2 separate regions of the Homo sapiens genome follow, and region 2 is linked to region 1. A link means that fine-mapping ties the variant in region 1 to the expression of a gene that starts in the linked region. Tissue or cell type: whole blood. Region 1 holds a variant in brackets; the other region holds the start of a gene. All regions are shown on one strand. Distances are from middle to middle.

The links. PIP is the estimated chance that this variant, and not a neighbour inherited with it, causes the effect.
Region 2: it holds the start of CAPN10, and the variant in region 1 is fine-mapped to the expression of CAPN10 in whole blood (TOPMed, PIP 0.96).

Annotation. Positions count from the first base shown.
Region 1 is chr2:240,616,674-240,622,507 of GRCh38, reverse strand. It overlaps a transcript of GPR35 not described here. Among named protein-coding and RNA genes, the nearest start is that of GPR35, 5.9 kb to the left of the region's middle. RefSeq lists enhancers at 735-874, 895-954. The variant C/T (reference allele first, on the strand shown) is at 2,586.
Region 2 is chr2:240,582,853-240,589,532 of GRCh38, reverse strand. It overlaps CAPN10 (calpain 10), which reads right to left and starts at 2,799. Exons shown (of 12, transcript NM_023083.4): 1 at 2,481-2,799; 2 at 59-190. The coding sequence starts at 2,621. It overlaps CAPN10-DT (CAPN10 divergent transcript), which reads left to right and starts at 3,217. Exons shown (of 1, transcript NR_103792.1): 1 at 3,217-6,680. RefSeq lists a silencer at 2,533-2,762 and enhancers at 1,962-2,788, 2,727-3,021, 3,073-3,252, 4,243-4,612, 4,983-5,052.

The sequences.
Region 1 (5,834 bases):
AGTGTATTTCATGTTTGGCCCAAGGCAATTCTTCTTATTCCAATGCGGCCCGGGGAAGCCAAAAGATTGGACAGCCCTGCTTTGAAGGGAAGTCTGTGAGGCGATGTCAGGGAAGCAGGAGCCTGGGAGAGCCAGAGAAAAGCCGTTTACGTTCAGCTCCACCTTGAGACCAATGAGGCACATACCTGCCAGCCACAGCCCATGGTCATACGATGTTTACAGCTAAAGCAGCAGCCAGTGACGCCTGCGTGGACACACTTCTATGACAGCAAAGTGTCCAAGTGCCCTGGTATCCAGAACAATATATGCTTTCCAGACAACTACCCTTGGCCGGACGCGGTGGCTCAGGCCTCTAATCCCAGCACTTTGGGAGGCCAAGGTGGGAGGTTGGCTTGAGCCCAGAAGTTTGAGACCAGCCTGGGCAACATAGCAAGACCCCATCTTTACAAAAAGTAAAAAAAAAAAAAATCAGCCACGCATGGGGGTGCATGCCTGTAATCCCAGCTACTCAGGAGGCTAAGGCGGGAGGAGCACCTGAGCCTGGGAGGCAGAGATTGCAATGAGCTGAGATCGTGCTACTGCACTCCAGCCTGGTTGCAACAGAGCAAGACCCCGTGACAGACAGTTTTCTTTAAATCAATAGAATAATACATGTTAGGCACAGTTTAGCTTAGTCTTTACACAGACGAGACCCCTGTATGAGAAAAAGTTAAAGCTGGGGTGTTCCCCCTCTTGCTTTCTGACGACACCCTGCTCTGTAATGGAGCAACTTTCAATAAACCCTCTCTTCTCACCACATTCTGACTTGCCTCCACTTCCTTCCTGAGTGAGACCCACGAAGCATGTCTTGAGGTCTGAATCGAGACTCCTTTTGCAGTGAAGCTGCCATCCTAAATGAGTCGCTTGGATCCTCATGCGTCCTTTGCATAGTTTTGGTTTACTAAAACAACACATTGGCTGGGTGCAGTGGCTCACATCTGTAATCCCAGCACTTTGAGAGGCCGAGGCAGGGGGATCACGAGGTCAGGAGTTCAAGACCAGCCTGGCCGACATGGTGAAACCCCATCTCTACTAAAAATACAAAAATTAGCTGGGCGTGGTGGCGCGTGCCTGTAGTCCCAGCTACTCGGGAAGCTGAGACAAGAGAATTGCTTGAACCCGGGAGGCGGAGGTTGTGGTGAGCCGAGATCACGCCACTGCACTCCAGCCTGGGCGATAGAGGGAGACTCCATCTCAAAAATAAATAAATAAATAAATAAGAAATAAAACAACACATTACGGTTTATCTTTATGACTGTTTTTCTGGTGTCCCTTCAAGCGCTGTGCCCCCGAGGCCAGTGCCTCACTTGCCCACCCAGCAGCTCAGGCAGACCAGTGGGGTCCTCTGTGTGGGGGCTCAGTTGTGGACCCCGAGAGAGGATGTGAGTACACCTCCCTCTTCTCGAGGTTTCCCTGTCACCCTCAGCACTTTCTGTTCCCCTCTTCACAGAACCAGGTCTGGAAGTGCACGTCCTGCTGGGAAACTCCCCTCCCCCACTGATCTTGCCTAAAGCCTGGCGGTGTCACTGTGAGGGGCTGGGGACCAGGACACAGGGTCTCTGTCCTAGATGCCCTGCTTTTGTGTGTATTTGATGTTTTCCATAATAAAAGTGTATAGAGAACTGAGTGTGTGGCCACAGAGGGGCAGGGGAGGGCAAAGCCTGTCAGCTGTGGGGCAGAGGAGGTAGCGGGCAGGGGTCCTGGGGGGTGGCTGCAGAAGACTAGCACCTGTGGCCTAAGGTCCCCTCCAGCCAAGACCCCGCCCTGTGCTCAGCCTCCTGTGATGGCCCCATCCCCACAGGGGGTCCCCACAGCCCAAGTGCAGGGCCCTTGGCAGGAGCTGGGCACCACCGCAGGACGAGCAGGGGACACGGGGTCCCAGGGGTCTGGAAGGGATCCTGAGGGGCCCTGAGAGGACCACGATGGGGGCAGGAGGGGTCCTGAGAGGGTCTGAGGGGCTGCAAGTCGCACCCAGGGCCCTTCCCTGCCTCCCCCGTGCCCACGCCTCCCTTCACCAGGCACCCTCACAGTGGAGCCTCCAGCTCTGCCCACCTGCAGCAGGAGGCCCCTGGGCACTCAGGGGCCGTCTCCACGCCTTGGAACTCCTGCCCCACCTTCACCCAGCCTATGGGGTGTCGAGGCATCTGGCCACCAGCAGGGAGATCCCAGCCCTGGCCACCAAAGGCCAGAAGAGGCTCCTTGGGCTGAGGGCAGGTGACCCCAGCCCCTGGGCCACCCCCGCCAGCTCACTCACCCTGATGGCTCCCACTGCCTGCTCCTGGGGACCCACTGCTGCCAGATGCCCCGCTGGGGTCCCCACCTGGCCTCGGGGTGGGCCTTGGGTGCTGCCCCAGCCAGGTTTCTGCTATTTCCAGCGGCTTTCCCTTTTCTTGGCCCTGGACAGCAGGGCCACCCTCTCGGACTCCTTCCCCTTCCTCTGCACAAGGCTCTGTGACTGGGAAGCTGCCTGCTCCTTGGCCCTTCAACTGCCAGCTCTCTGTCCCCATCCCTAGGGCCCTCCCTTCTCAGCAGAGAGAGCCATCGGG[C/T]CCCCGCTTGAGGCCCTCCCAACTCACTCGCCCTCCTGTCCAAGAGCCCCGCTCCTAAGATCCTCACTCCTAAGTGCCACTTCCTGGCTCGGGAACCTGCAGAGGCTCCCCACTGCCTGCCTGAGGCCGCCTGCCAGCCGCTGGAAGGTCCTCCACTCTGGGGAGACCTCCGGTTGGGGGAGTCTGGCGGGGAGGGAGGAGTAACTCTTGAGAGCGGAGTGTGTGTCGTGTGCTGTCATCCCCGCCCTAAACTGAACCATAAACACCCAGTGGCTGGACAAGGAAGGGGCAGTCCCTCCAGCAGGGATTTTCCCCACGTCCTCCCCGGGGCAGCAGGATCCCGGCCTGGCTGGCTTGCAGCAGCCTGTCTAGGATGGGCCCAGGAAATGGCAAGTTTAATCACGCCCAGGAGCCACTGAGGCAGAGGGTCCTTAACCCCAGAAGAAGCACTGTGTGGAGAGTTCTCACTCCCGTTCTTTTGCCCTATCCTGGGACCACCAGCCTTCAGAGACACTTCCTCCGGAGCCAGGCAAGACGCCTGCTGATAGAGATGGGAGTAGACGCTCACAGAGGAGATGTAAATTGCTCCTTAAAGATACGAAACGATGCTCAAAACGATCATAAAAAGAGAAACACAAATTAAGCTCAAAACGATCATAAAAAGAGAAACACAAATCAAAAGTTCACTGCAACACCATTTCTCCTCCATTAGTCAGGTCAAAATCCAAGAGTCTGACCACAATAGAAAGACGTCCTCGGATATCACCCATTGATCACTGATCTCTAAGGTGGCACAAACCCCCAGGCAGGTGGATTTGGCAATATCTTTAGCCAAATTAGAGATGCATTTACTCTTTGACCCAATAACCCCACTTCTAGGAATGTACTCACAGAGAGACGCAAGGACTATGAAGCATGTACTTCAGCAGCTCTTCACTGCCACGGTGTGGAGTGGGGACAGCCCGGGAACCACTCAGCATCTCTCCCAAGGGCCCAGGTTGAATGAAGCGTGTTCACACCACAGGACACTGAGCACTTGCAAAGAGGAGGGAGAAATATTTCTACACACTGTCATATGGTCATCTCCAGAATGTATTTGTAAATGAAAAAAAGCATGTTTATGTACATATAGACAATTGATGTGTTTTTAGATGGAGCCATCAGCTGTATGTTTTACAAATGGAAAGATAAGCTACAAAATTTGCTTTAAATTAAACTGTTACCTGTAGGAAACAGGTGGAAATGGGATGGGGATAGGGACGGACTTCTGTGACCATATCTTGGTTTCTAGATTTGGATTTAGACTCATGTCAAATGTTTGTGTAATTACTTAATTTAATTAAATTAACTTGTAAAAGGAATTCTTAAAATTGAAAGCAAAATGAAACTAACTGACTTGCATTATGGGTTGACAATATGAACCTACCAAACTCTTCCAAGTGATTTTAAAATCCAGTCATTTGGATGTATATCCATATAGCCTGACAACAAGAAAGAATGGCAAAAGAAGTTTTCATTATTTTAAGTAATCATTTTCCAAATAATTTTAAAACACTGTTTTGTCTGTACGTCGACACAACCCAAGGACTTTAAAAGTATCTAAAAATAATTTTAAACTATTTTCAGTGGTTATATACTGTTGATGGTAGTGTTGGTAAAGTCATTTTGAAAATATTGTGTGTGTTACAGGATAAAACAAATGAATAACTATGTTGGGTATTGTTTGAGATTTTTGGTGTGGGAGAAAGGAGATGCAGATATATTATCAATAAGATTAAGTAAAAACTATGTAAATCCGAATTTAAATAGAAAGTATCCATTTGTACTCATAATGTGTCTTTCAAAAAAAAAAGCCTTAGTTCTGTCCACTGACAAGGCCTAAAAATGACGACAAATCCAGTAACCACAAGCACACCTAACACCCAGACTGTGGTCTCTAAGTACCATTTCTCTTGAAGAGGAAGAGGGGCTCTTGGAGAGAAGTGTATGCTGTCCAATCTGGGTTAGGAAATGTCTAATGTAATTCTGGAATGTCTTCTTATGCCAGAGAACAAAGTAGCTGTCAAAGATTATTAGGGCAGTGCCAAAGGGGCTCAGGAGTTAAATCAAATAGGCTGGCACTGGACAAAGACAGGAAGATCTGAATATCAATAAGGATAATAATGTTAATGGGAACATCAAAAAATGTTTAAACTCATGAACTTGTAATTATACTTTAAAAACTCATTAGTCATTGTTGAAAGATGCCAGGAAAACAGTTCATTATTTTATAAATGAGGAAAGGAAGGGAAAGAATCAAGCATTTGCCCTGCCTTTCCTATGCAAACTGTACCTCAACATGACCAAAGAGTTAATGAAGGAACACTTCTTTTTATAGATACATTTCTGCTAATAAATAATGAAGGAAGACAGAAGTAGAATATCACTACTTTGCAAACCCTGATGGATGAATGAAACTAGCATTAGGGTTAATTATCTATTATTTTAGCTGTGCATTGTCAGCTACCTATTGCTACACAAAAAAATTACCTCTAAAATGAGAAGATTAAAACCACAGAGTTTTATCTCCCAGTTCCTGTGGGTCAGGAATTCGGGCTCTGCCAAACTGGGTCCTCTGCTCAGGGTCTTTCATGAGTCTGCAATCCAGGTGTCAGCCGGGGCTGCAGTCTCATCAGAAGGCTCAGCTACGAGGAGATTCACTTCCAGCTCCCCCAGGTGGCTGTTGGTAGAGTTTCAGGTCTTTCATGAGTCTGCAATCCAGGTGTCAGCCGGGGCTGCAGTCTCATCAGAAGGCTCAGCTACGAGGAGATTCACTTCCAGCTCCCCCAGGTGGCTGTTGGTAGAGTTTCAGGTCTTTCATGAGTCTGCAATCCAGGTGTCAGCTGGGGCTGCAGTCTCATCAGAAGGCTCAGCTAAGATGAGATTCACTTCCAGCTCCCCCAGGTGGCTGTTGGTAGAGTTTCATTCCCAATGGGCAGCTGGCCTGAGGACCCCAAATCTTCCCTGGTTCCTGCCCTCAGTTCCTTACTGGCCATGCCTCTTCACAGGGCAGCACACAGCATGGCATCTGGCTACCCCAGAGCCAGCGAGAGAGAGTATGCATCCAAGACAGATGCCATGGTCTCTTTCAACCTAATCACGGAAGAGACAACACATCACTTTTTTTTTTTTTTTTTTTTTTACTGTATTGTTTGTTATAAGTGAGTAAGTCCAGCCACCCTTCAGGAGGGAATTGCATGACAGCAGGAG
Region 2 (6,680 bases), 33 kb after region 1:
CTGGAGAAACGCAAAAAGAAACCGGCTCCAGGACAAACACAGGGAAGGGGCCCCGCACCTGGTCCAGGAGGTGCCTGCTCTTCTGCAGCGCGGCGCAGGCACACAGGAACCAGCAATCCCCCAGCAGCCCCTGCTTCACCTGCCCTTCCCGTGGGTCATCTGGAAACAGCCGGGGTGTGGCACAAATCTCCTGAGATACAGAAAGTTGTCCAGAGTTAGATCATGCCTGCTGTGGAACCCTTCAAACTAAGAACCCAAGGCTCTAGATGACAGGAGTTGGGGTGGAGCTTTTCCGATCATCAGTGTTACCCAAAAAGGGACAGGAAGGTGGTTTCCTGCAGCGGGTGTCCTTCAGCTCCTGGCTTCAAATGCCTCTGTCCAGCTTAATTCTGGGGTGCCTTCCTTCCTTACTGGAAAAATCCCAAACTCTAGCAAGCTCCTTCTCAAAACAGCTAAATGTTGGCTTCGAAAAGTTTCACTTTTTACTCATGCTGGTAAATCTCAAATGTGTCCTCCATCCTGCTGGAAATCTGTTTCTCTAGCAGGCTCCATTTCCCACACCCCCTAACTATCATATACCTTCCCCTTTCTCCCCGTCTACTCAAAACATCCACACTGCCCTTGCCCACCCCTCTGAGCTTCGACCTTGCCTCCTGCTTCTGGACCTGACCCTCTCTCCTGCCCTCAGAGCCTGGGCTCCTCTCACAACTCCTTCCCTTCCAGCTCCCCGGGCAGAATCCCACCCCCATGTTCTTTAAGACATTATCTCTCAGCACCATAGTCTCCTTCAGGCTTCTCTTCATTACAGCTCTTGAAAGAGCTGCCATGCCCACTACCTGCTTCCCATTCACTCTCCACACAGGCTCCTCTAGCTTCTGAGCCAATCATGGCCCCTAAACTGCCTCGATCAATGTCGCTGTCACCTCTATGTTATCAAACCCACTGGGCTTCTCTTGGTCCCAACTCTCTTCCCCAACTACTCAGCAGCATTCACAACAGCAGAACAGCCATCTGCTGCCCCTGAGGTGGTCCCCACTCAGCTTCTGTGAGGCCGCATGCTCCCCGGGTGTCCTCTCCCTCACTGCCTGCTGCTTCTCAAGTCTATCTGTCAGGGCACCTGCCTGACCCCAAGAAATGTTAGGGTTCCTCAAGGCTCAGCCCCAAGGCCCCCTTCTTCTTTACTGATACTCCCCCGAGACACTCTCCCAGGCTGTGGACTGTAAACCATCTAATATGCTCCGCCTCCCAGAAGAATGCCTCTAGCCTATCCCTGCTCCGTATCCACCTGCCTCCAGGACAGATCCACCTGCCTCCAGGACAGCTCCACCTGAAGACGTGAGAGCAAAGCCCAACTCTAGGTCACCCCCAGGCTCTGTCCCAGGACCACCATCCACCCACCTGTTCAGGCCAGAAACCCAGAAGGCATGTTGATCCCTCCACTATCCTCACCCTCTATTTCAATCAGTCACTATGGCCTCTCGATCCCCCCTGCAAGGTACGTCTCAAACCAATCTACTCCAAACCCACATCCTAACAGTCGTCAAGCTAATCTGAGCCCCTTCATCTTTCTCCAGGACCACTACAATGGACCCTTGCATTCTTGCCCCGACAACCCACTTCCCACCCAGCAGCAAGAGTGAGCTTGTAAAAACACACATCCAAGAGAACCACTCCTCTACCAAAACCCTCTAGTGGCCTCCAGCTGCACCTAAAATCAATCTTTTAACAAAATAAAACCCAAATTCCAATGACAAGGCTCTACATGGTCTGACCCTTGCCTCCTCCCAGGCCCTTCAGTGTTGTCCAAGGAAACCAGGTGGCCTGTCAAAGCCATCTCAGTCACGAGAGCCCAGAAGTTCCAGCTCTGTTCGAAGACTGGCGGCCATCAGTTGTCTCCGCTAAGACCGCATCCACTTAGGGCAAGGTTGCTCCCTGGGCAGTCTTATTCAGCAGATAAACCATTTCTAAAAATATGAACACAGCACTCGGCCAGGGCATCCCTTGGAGGTGCCATTTCTAGGTGTTACAACTGGAAAGGCAGGTGCACAAAATCCAAAACTGAAATTCTATCACGCTTTGCTTTGTGGGCTCGGCCTAGCCACTTCAGAGGGGCACGAGCGGCCCTCTCTGCGGGAGGAGCAGACACAAACGCTCTTCAGGGCGAAAGCAAACAGGTGGGGCGGGGTTTGGGGCTCTGTTAAAACGCCTCTCGCAGCGCTCTGAGCCTCCTGGATTGGAGCTCTCGCAGGCGGAGGCCACGACCTAGTTTAGCGTCCTTAGGGTAGCGCCGAGTCCTGCTCGTTCTGGGCGGGGGTATGAAGGAGGTACGAAAAGAGGGGGCCGGGCGCCCACTTCTGAGGAGAACAACGGCGGACCCTGCGTTCGGAGCTACCCTGGCCGCCCACCCCGCCCCGCTCCCTGCGAGGAGCGGAGATCTCAGAAACCAGAAACGGCGCCCACCGCACCCCACACGGCCCCACCTGGGGCCGCCTCCACGTGATGTCCTCGCGGAACTGGGCCAGCGGCGTAGACAAGTCGCAGAAGAGCGAGGAGTCCGCGGCGGGGAAGGCGGCGTCCCGGAACAGCTCCCTCGCCGGCGTCGCGCCCCGGCCCGCCCGCATCCTCGGCTCCGCGGGCTCCCATCTGCAGCCGGTTGCCTCGGGGTCGCAGCCCCGGAGAGAAGGCGAGTCAGCCGCCGCCGCCTCCGGCCCGCCCCGCCCGTTCCCCGCCCGGCCCAGCCCTCCAAGCCCGAGGGCCCCGCAGGTGCTGGACCAGGCCAGTACGCCGGCCCGCTAGTCTCCCATTGGTAACCAGGCGGCAGCCAACCGGGCGTGGGGTCTCGGGTCACGTGACAGGCGGCCCAATCGCACTCGCGCGACGGAAAGCGCCACGGACGTCGGAGGCCCAGGGGGCGGGGCTCCCGAGCTCCGCTCTTTCGTGGTCGGGCGGCGGACCGCACTGTATTTTTTCCTTCCGGGGGCGGCGGAGCCCAGGGCTATCCCGGCCTCCGCTCATACCCGGAGGGCCGGCAGGCGTTCAGTCCTCCAGCCGGTGAGGCTCGGGCCGGGGTGTCGGGACCGCCTGAACACGCGGGCTCTGGGAGCTTCAGGGACCAGGGAGCCACCTCGGCCGAGTTGCGTCGCAGACTACAGCTCCCAGCATGCGCCGCCGCTCCCAGCATGCACCTTCCTCCCGAAACGCGTCTCTGCTTCCGGCGCTCTGCTGCGGAGGCCGTGGCCGCGGGTAGTTGGGAGGAACCGAGATTTACGCTTGGTAAGGCAAGTTGCGAGCTGTCCGGCGCCGGTCGAGTTCCTGCCGCCGTCGTCGTCAGGCAGGGGAGAAGGGGGCCTCAACCCCTCTAGTGACAGCTGTTTGCTACCTAATAGGGCTTTTCATCCCACCGGGCCCCAGGGCCTTCGTTAGGAGCCCAGCAGGCTCAACTTCTTGCTGTGGTTCTGGAAAAGGGAGTGACCACCTGGCTCAACACCTCTCTCTGTGATGTGTTTGGGAGTTTTGGGAAATGAGACGGCTCCGAGGGAAGAGCTTGAGGGAGCGGCGTCGCACTCGTTCGACCTTCCCGGGCCTGGGCTTTGTTTCTAGGCATTTTAGGTTGAACGCTCTACATCTTAACTGGGGGCAGGGGAGGTGGCCAGAGCATCCCGCTGAGCGTTTTCCGATTCCCCAGATGGCCAGGCACCTGGTCCTGGTGGCTGGACAGTGACCCCGTGGACGCACATTTACAGCTATAGCCATTCAGTGCCGCGGGGAGGTGAGGATAGTGATCCTGGGACCTGCTCGAGGATTCACCCTTGCCCCAAGAACCTGTTCCATTCCCAGGAATGAAGGCGGTCAGGCAGGGGAGGAGAAGGGGGCCTCAACTCTTCTAGTGACAGCAGTTTGCCACCTAATAGAGCTTTTCAGATTTTGCCTCCTCAGGCCATTTTACTCAGCCTCGGACTATCAAGGATGGTCACATTGAAGCTGTTTTTCTGCAGTCAGGAGCGAAAAGTCCCGGCTGTTGAAGGAGAAACTGAATCTGGTTCAGGAGTCCCAGGTTCCTCCCTCTGAGAGGCCAGGTGGGGCCTGCGTGAGTAGCAGTTGTTCAGGTGGCAGGACACTGCTGTTTTCATCCCACCTGGCCCCAGGCCCCTGATTAGGGGCCCAGAGTGCTTATGTACTTGCCTCGGTCTGAGAAAGGGAGTGACTGCATAGCCCAACACCTGTGGGATGCCTCACTGCCCAGATGTTTCATCTCCGGGATGCTTCATTGCCCATTCAGCACCCTCTATGGTGCTGACTCTTCCGGAAGATGTTTCTGATTCCTTGCTAGGCTGGTGGTTGCACCATAGCTGAGAGGACTCAAGAAGAGCCTGGTCTCAGCTTCACCTAGGAGTCCCGGAGGAGTAAGAAACACGTATCTTTCCTGTTCTGGGCACATATGGGTGGGTAGCAGAGCTGAGGCTAGCTGAGGATCCCGACTCTCCTTTGGGAGCCTTTGTTGTGCCGCTCTCCCAGGCTGATCAGATCTGGAGAGCTAACAGCTTCCTGTGGCCACATCTGTGTCCAAGGCTGGGCCCATGCCTGTAGCCAGATTGCCAGGATCTGGAAGGGGCCAAGAGACAGCTGGTGCTGGGTAGGCAGCAGCCCTGTGTCAACCTGCCCCCACTATTACCCCATGCTGTGATTTGCATGTGGTCTGCCCCTGCCCAAAATGGTATTGAAATTTGAGCCTCAATGAGGCAGTGTTAGGAGGTGGTGCCTAGTAGGAGGAGTTTGGGTAATAGGGGTGGATCCCTCATGGATAGGTTAGTGTCCTTTGTGGAGGGGTGAGTTCCCATGAGAGCTGGTTAGAGAGTCAGCCTTCCTGCGGTTGTCTCTTGCTTCCTCTCTCGCCATATGGCCACGTAATCTCTTTGTGCATGCCTCTCCCCTTCTACTTGCTGCCTTGAGTTGAAGTAGCATGAGGCCCTCACCAGGTGCAGCTGCCCAATCTTGAAATTTCCACCAGAATTTTGAGCCAAATAAACCTGTTTTGCTTTTTTAAAAAAATAAATTCCCCCACCTTGGCTGGGCGCAGTGGCTCACGCCTGTAATCCCAGCACTTTGGGAGGCCGAGGCGGGCGGATCACGAGGTCAGATCGAGACCATCTTGGCTAACACGGTGAAACCCCATCTCTACTGAAAAAAAAAAAGAAACAAAAAAATTAGCCAGGTGTGGTGGCGGGCACCTGTAGTCCCAGCCCCTCACTCGGGAGGCTGATTGAGGCAGGAGAATGGTGTGAACCCGGGAGGCGGAGCTTGCAGTGAGCCCAGATCGCACCACTGCACTCCAGCCTGGGCGACAGAGCGAGACTCCGTCTCTAAATAAATAAATAAATAAATAAAACAAACCCAACCTCAGGTATAGCAGTGTGAAACAGACTAAGACATTCCACATGCCCTGTGGTCCCATCTGCTACCCCAGGGTGCAAAGATGTTCCCTCAGCCCTGAAGAATGACATTCCCCCCGGCTCCTGGGATATCTGGAGGGGTTGTAAGCAGCTTGGGTTGGTGAGATAAGGAGTTTGGGGGGCAGCTGATTCATGACCCTGGCCTCCTCAACTGCAGGCTCTTGGTCTGAAGTACTGTAATTAAAGTATGAGAGCCTCGGGGCCCTCACTTCAAGGAGGGAAGAGCATCCCCATGCCTCAGCGTTTGGGGATTGTAGGGAGATGAGAGTCCTTCAGGTGGGACTAGTTCCCGCCATGACCCCACTGCTGGCCAGTGGCCTGAAACGCATCTGACCACTTCTCAGGTTCATGGGTGTTGAGGAGGAGCCCTGTGGAATCAACCCTGTCTGCCTCCTCTTATCCTGCCACTCCTCTTGCTCTGTCTGGATGACTGCCCTTGTTTTTCAAGGGAATGTTCCCTGTCTTCCTCAGCCAGGATTTTTTCTGAACTTGACATCTCCGTTTGTTCAGGGGGCAATCATTGGGCACTTCACTGTGCTGGTCCTTGCATTCTCATGGAGATGCAGAGATTAAAAATTAGTATCTTGTCCACATACTGCCCAGAGTTAGCAAGGATTGCTTTTCTGTGGATTTGTCTCAGGTCGGGCACAGTGGGGGTAGGGTCCTTCTCGAACCTTTTCCTAGCCTAAAGGTTCCAGCTGAATCTTCCCAGGCAGGGCTGAAACAGGAACCATTTTAGGCTTTGCTGCAACCCATGGTCAGTTCTCCAAGAAAAGTGAAGAGGGTTCCACCTGGGGCAGCCCTCAAGGGCTCAGAGGGCCAAAACACACGTACAACATGTTGAGACACTGAGTTTGTGCGATCCCCACACATCTCAGCAGTGAGTATTTCTGCCTCATTTTACCGATGAGGAACCTGAGCTTCAAAGGGAAGAGGTGACAGCTCAGGACCACACAGCTGTAGGTAGGAGGCAGGAAAATAGGGTCTGAGTGCAGGGAACATAGGCTGATTCACACTTCAGTTATGATAGGAAATACCTTCTCCATAGGACATAGGCCAAGCAAATGACTTTGTAACTTCATCCTCTCCATCTGCATAACGTGTGCCCCAAGTAACCAATGGAATCACCTAGAGGGTGTTTAAACTCTCAGAAGTTCTGTAACAGGCTCTCCATCTACATAACGTGTGCCCCAAGTAACCAATGGAATCACCTAGAGGGTATTTAAACTC